Linked DNA regions of Homo sapiens: region 1 is linked to region 2. Evidence: fine-mapped expression QTL. A gene starts in region 2. The other region holds a variant in brackets. All regions are shown on one strand. Distances are from middle to middle.

Region 1 (2,706 bases), 250 kb after region 2:
GTAGCAACAGGGAGGGGCGCCAAGGCTTCCAGCTGCCCTGAGATTGGGCTGCCTGGGCCACCTGTGGGTGTTGGTGGCAGCAGTTAGGAGGCCTGGAGGTGCAGAGCTGCGGCCAAGGGCCGGCTGGGAACTCCCTCCCCCGGGGGTGCTCTGTGGGCTGGACGCCAGTGATGGTCCCAAAGCACATGAGCGCCCGGCCCCACCTCCAGGGGCCTAAAGCCGCTGCCCCCGCGAGAGGTTCAGCACAGTAACGGGGCTGCGGCTCCTTCTTCAGCAGAGCAGGCAGAGTCTGGAAGAAGGGCGCCTGGCCGGAGTCACGCGGAGACCCAAGCCTCGGGCTTCCCATAAGACACCGAGTTCTGAGAGCCGGTGGAAGCTTTGAAGTTATTCATAGGCTTTGATCTTTTTAAAAGACGGCTGTTGGTCCCTGCTGGTGAAGGATGCGAGAGGAAGTGCGCAGTCCAGGCTGTGCGGTGCAGCCGAGGGCCTTTGAGTGGACAAGGGGGTTGAATTCCCTCGTGGGACCTTGTCCAAGCCACATGCCTTCTGCAAAGCCTCAGTTTCTTTGCCTGTGAAGTGGGGATGACATTCCCCGCTGAGGGTTCTGAGCGCGGCAGGTTGGGGATGGAGCTGTGTGGTTGAGGCACACGTGATGTGTGTTACCCCAGTACTCCGGGACTCCCTCGGAAGCCTGGAGCAGAGGCACTGCCTCAGAGACCAGCATTATCTTCAGAGCAGAAGGAGCGTCCAACCCCGAGTCTGTGAGGCTCTGCAGCAGAGACTTGGGGTGTCTGCGAGTCAAAACCTTGCTGACAGTTTCAGAGAGTCGGCCTTTGGGAGACCTTGTGTCCCTGTGCCGTGACTGTTGAGATGACCCCATGGGCTGTAAGCGCCTTCCTATTTATGCAGCCTCACACCTGCCACTCAAACCCCACGGTGCGGTGGCATCATTCTGAGCCCCTTCCTCTCCTCTGCAACCACTGAGCATCCCTGTCCCCTTCCGAGCGTCCTGGCCTCCCTGTCTCCTTTCCAGCGTCCCATCTGAAGCTCATCCCTGGGGATCCTGCTGCTGCTCTCTGCCTCAAAGACCCCAACAACCGTGAGAACAAAGCCAGAACTCACCCGTGTATTTTTAAACTTCTTGTTTATTTTACTCATGAGTAAAGAAAGAGCATTTTCATTTTTTTTTTATGTTCAGAGACAGGGTCTCTCGCTATGTAGGCTAGGTTCGTCTTGAACTCTTGGCCTCAAGCAGTCCTCCCGCCTCAGCCTCCCAAAGCGCTAGGATTACAGACGTGAACCACTGCGCCCAGCCGTAATAATTATTTTCAACCAAGGAAAAATGCCTTTCCTTGATTTGATTAATGTACCCATCTCTTAACTATGTGTAA[C/T]GGCAGAGAGGCCCCCCAAATGCCTGAGATGAATTCCTGTGTAAAAGAGCTGGAGGCAGATTCTGTGCTGAGCAGGAGGAGTGTGTGGGGCCACCACTCACCAGGGAGAGGGGGCCTTGGGGCCTGGTTCCCTGGGAGACACAGTGCCCCCTCCTGCCTGCCCAGAGGCCACGCTCAGGGCAGAGCAGGGGCCAGGCCTCCCCACCCGCTCACCAGGTCCGCGCCTAACATCTCCCATGTGCCCTCGAGCCTCGGCCACGCTGAAGGCATCAGGAAAACAATTGGACTTACGTTTGACGGTGCCTCGGGACTCCTGGAAGCCGGCTGCCTCGGAGCCCCAGCCCAGCGCCTCACAGTCATGTGCGTCCACCTGGCCGGCTCTGGCCCCAGGGCTCGGCCCTCCCCGGGTCCTGTCCACCAGCCAGCAGGACCTCCACAGCCCCACGCTGCGCCTGCGCCCATCCTCCAGCGTCTGGCACACCCAGTTGGAGGTGAAGGCCGCCACGTTGTTGAGGATGAGTGAGACCAGGGCCACCAGCACGGCCGCGGCCACGAGTCTCTGCACGGTCATCGCTGACGCCGGTGCCGCCGCTTATCCGGAGAAAGCCAAGTCCCAGTCCGCGGCCGCACGTCCAGGGAGAGCCGACGCTGCTAGGGGTGGCTAGAGGACATCACCACTCATCCTCGGGGCGGCGCGGGCGGAGGCCCATGGGATGGTCCAGGTGTGCCGCCTCTCGGCCCGGCCTTATCCTCCTTCCTGCACCTGGAGCAGGGCCAGGCCTGTGCTGAAGCTGCTCGCCTCGGGGCCCATCCCAGGGAGCAGAGGGTGGGCAGCAGCAAGAACCCAGGGCCAGGAGTGCGCCGTCTTCCCGGGAAGCGGAGGCCGGCCTGTGCCGCGCGTGCCTCTTCTCGCCTGCAGCAGTGGAAAACAGAGTCACTCGGGAGGCCGGCAGCAGTGGGAGTCGAGCCCGCGCCACACTCCTTAGCACCGGCCTGCTGTGAGTGCCAGGCTCCGGGCAGGGTGGCCGGTGTGGAGCGGGTTCACAGCTCCTCTGTGCTGCCTGGGCCCCTGTGTGGATGCCTCCAGGGCAGTTGGCCGGTCCTGGAAAGCAGAGTGGCTGCTGCAGGGACGCCCGTGTGCGCAGAGCTCGCCTTCCCTGGCTCTCAGCAGAGAGGAAATGGTTGTTTTTGAGACTGTTTTTGGTGAGCTGGAAGGCGTAGCCAACCGCAACAAATAGCGGCCCTGCCGCGGCAGCCAGACACCAACAGGATGTGCTTCCTGATGGGAAAGGCCAGGAGACTTCTGAGGCCCTGC
Region 2 (3,002 bases):
TCAAGGCTGCAGTGAGTTATGATCGTGCCACTGCACTTCAGCCTTGGCGACAGTTAAGACCCTGTCTCAAAAAAAAAAAAAAGCTTCTATCAATCTCAGTAATATCCTTACTTTGTAGTAAATCCGTCCTGATAATAAGGACAGGCTTTTCCAGGCTTCTCCTCTGGAATAAGACTCCAGCACTGGGCCAGGCGCCGTGGCTCACGCCTGTAATCCCAGCACTTTGGGAGGCTGAGACGGGCGGATCACGAGGTCAGGAGATCGAGACCATCCTGGCTAACACGGTGAAACCCCGTCTCTACTAAAAATACAAAAAATTAGCCGGGCGTGGTGGCGGGCGCCTGTAGTCACAGCTACTCGGGAGGCTGCGGCAGGAGAATGGCGTGAACCCGGGAGGCGGAGCTGGCAGTGAGCCGAGACCGCGCCACTGCACTCCAGCCTGGGCGACAGAACGAGACTCCGTCTCAAAAACAAAAGACTCCAGCACTCGGTTTCTAATCTGTCAGAGTTGTGCTGCAAGACCTTGCTGTCCGAGGAATGTTTTCCTTTTGGTATCGGACTCGAGGTCTCTTAGAAGATAAATGCGGCTCCCACTACTCAGGAGGGCCCACGGCGCTGATCTGGCGAACGGATCGTCCCCACTGGTGTGAATTCTGTCCCGCGCAACTTACACTTTTCTGAACACTGAGAGCGCCACTTCCACAAAGAACTTAAAAGCATGTGAGATTCTGGCGTCCGTCTTACTTTCATGACTGCGCGCGTGTGATTTATTTAGAGACAGGGTCTCGCTCTTGCCCGGGCTGCGGTGCAGTTGCAACCGCGACCTCCAGGATAGCGGGGCCCACAGGCGCCACCGCGCCCGCCTACAACGCGGTGCTCAACAAAGTTAACTTTAAAAGCTCCCCCAACTCCACGACTCAGGCCCTCCGAGATCACGGAGCTTCCACATCGAAGCAGGAGCACGCGGGAAACGACCCTGTTTAGAAAATGCCCGCGCCGCGGCCTCTGGCCCGGCCCAGCCACGCCGGCCGGTGATGGTCGCACCGGAGGCGCGCGACGCAGCGAGGCCGCCCCGGGAAGGGACGCGGCGGGGCCCCAAGCGAGGCCCTGGAGCGGCTCCGCACCCTGGCCCGCCACTCACCGGCCGCCGCCTCCATCCCGCCGCCTCCAGGAGCTCGCGGCTGCAGTCCGCTTACGCCCGCGGGCCGTCAGCCTCCCAGCTAGAGCGAAGGGCCTTCCAACCAATGGGCAGTGCGTGCCCGCCCGTGGCTCTTCTTGACAGGCCTAATCCTGCTGTCCCAGCCAATCAGCTTGCCGGAGGAGCTCTCGATCCGGTCCCGCAGGTTCCGGCGCAGACGATGACACGGACCTACTTTCCGGTCAACGCGGCCTGCGGTACCACCTCCCACCCGGGTCCAATGTGCGCGCGAGCTTTGTCTCCAACCGCTTGGGAACTGACCAATAGGAACGTTGGATTAGGACTGACAGTTCCTGAAACCTCTCGGCAATAGCTTTGTCACCCGACTCCCGCCCCCTCTCCCGAAGCTCCGAGACAGGTGTGCCCGCCCCTCGCCGCCGGAGCCAATGGGCGCAGGGGGCGGGGATTGTTTACGTCTCGCTCCGGGGCGGAAAGTGGGTCAGGGCCGGGCCGGCGGAGCGCGCAGCGGGGGCTGCAGGTGAGTGGCGGGGCACGGGCCGACGTCTCGGGCTCTGGGCGGGCGCGCTGACCTTGCGGGCGCGGCGGTAGCAGCGCGGCCAGGGCGCCGCCTTTGTTCCTCTCCGGAGGGCCGCGCCCGAGAGAGGCTTCCCCGGTGCCGCCGACTCCGGAACCCGCGCGCCCGCGGGAGGGAACAGCCAGGCCGGGCTGCCGCCGGGGAGGGCGGCTCCCGCTGCACACGCGCTCGCCTGGGGCTGGGCAGGGTTCGGCGGTCCGGGCGCCGCGATCCGCCCCGGCCTCCCTGGAACCCCACCCGGGGCCCAGCGGGCGTTGCCAGCCGCGAGCCCGGCGCAGGGGTCGGCCCTGGAAGGCTAGGCGGGAACCCCGGAGCTGGCGAGGGAGGTGCCAGGCAGGTGGCCTGGGAAGCGCAGACCTGGCCCTCGCAGCCTTTTGCATTTTATACCATAACAGCGGCCAGCGCTGAGCAGGTTTTAAGATTTGTGTTTCACGAGGAGCCCTGGCGGTAGCGAGCGGAGGGGAAGGCGAGCTGCGCGGCCCAGGAGACGGTGGCGGGAGGAGGATGCAGGCGGGTGCGGCGGTCGGGCCGGGCGTGAGGGGAAGGTGTCGGGGAGCGGTCACGGTGCTTCTGGCATGAGGAACTGGGAGGCCGGAGATGCCATTTGTCAAACCGGACGACAGAGGAGGAGCGAGTGGAGGTTTTAGATGCCTGCGGGACAGGCGGGCGGGGCAGCCAGGTTCGTGAGGTGGAACCGGAGAGAGGGGCTGGGATTCGCATTCCGGAGTCATGGGTGTCTGGGTGGCGTTTCACAGGATCTACCTGGGTTTTATTGAGCTGCTCAGATCCTGGAGTGAGGTACGGGCTCCTGAAGCGTTCTGGAGCCCTGGCTGGGCACCGGTGCGGCCCCTGCAGTCCCCACTTTGAGTGGGTCCGTGGCCCAGCCTGGAAGCTCAGGGCTGGGAGTGCTGTGAGTCTTCCTTTGCCCAGAGCCTGTGTTTTCTTCTAGATTCTTTCCACCATGGCCAGACGCCCCCGGAACAGCAGGGCCTGGCACTTCGTCCTGAGTGCAGCCCGCCGAGACGCAGATGCCCGGGCCGTGGCTCTAGCAGGCTCCACTAACTGGGGCTACGACTCTGATGGGCAGGTAGGTTCCAGCGGGCGAGGCGGACGTGGCTGGCCTAAGGTGTGGAGATGCCCTAGGCAGGCAGGCAGACATTACCTGAACACGGAATCAGTCGGAGAAAAAGATGCTTCTGAGGCTAGAGGACCAGTCCAAACCTGGGCCTGTCTCCTGGATGCACCGCATTCAGTAAGACTCTTTAATTT

What was found. PIP is the estimated chance that this variant, and not a neighbour inherited with it, causes the effect.
Region 1: its variant is the best candidate, but not a certain one, in a credible set for the expression of NUBP2 in sigmoid colon (GTEx, PIP 0.56).

What each region holds. Positions count from the first base shown.
Region 1 is chr16:1,533,532-1,536,237 of GRCh38, reverse strand. The region is part of intron 19 of IFT140 (intraflagellar transport 140); the gene reads left to right. TMEM204 (transmembrane protein 204) reads right to left here and starts at 2,572. Exons shown (of 3, transcript NM_024600.6): 1 at 1,683-2,572. The coding sequence starts at 1,962. RefSeq lists enhancers at 1,839-2,542, 2,543-2,706. The variant C/T (reference allele first, on the strand shown) is at 1,392.
Region 2 is chr16:1,781,176-1,784,177 of GRCh38, reverse strand. NUBP2 (NUBP iron-sulfur cluster assembly factor 2, cytosolic) reads right to left here and starts at 1,218. Exons shown (of 7, transcript NM_012225.4): 1 at 1,142-1,218. The coding sequence starts at 1,157. It overlaps EME2 (essential meiotic structure-specific endonuclease subunit 2), which reads right to left. Exons shown (of 8, transcript NM_001257370.2): 8 at 2,476-3,002. It overlaps SPSB3 (splA/ryanodine receptor domain and SOCS box containing 3), which reads left to right and starts at 1,607. Exons shown (of 7, transcript NM_080861.4): 1 at 1,607-1,676; 2 at 2,683-2,820. The coding sequence starts at 2,695. RefSeq lists silencers at 276-502, 930-1,139, 1,640-1,999 and an enhancer at 1,280-1,429.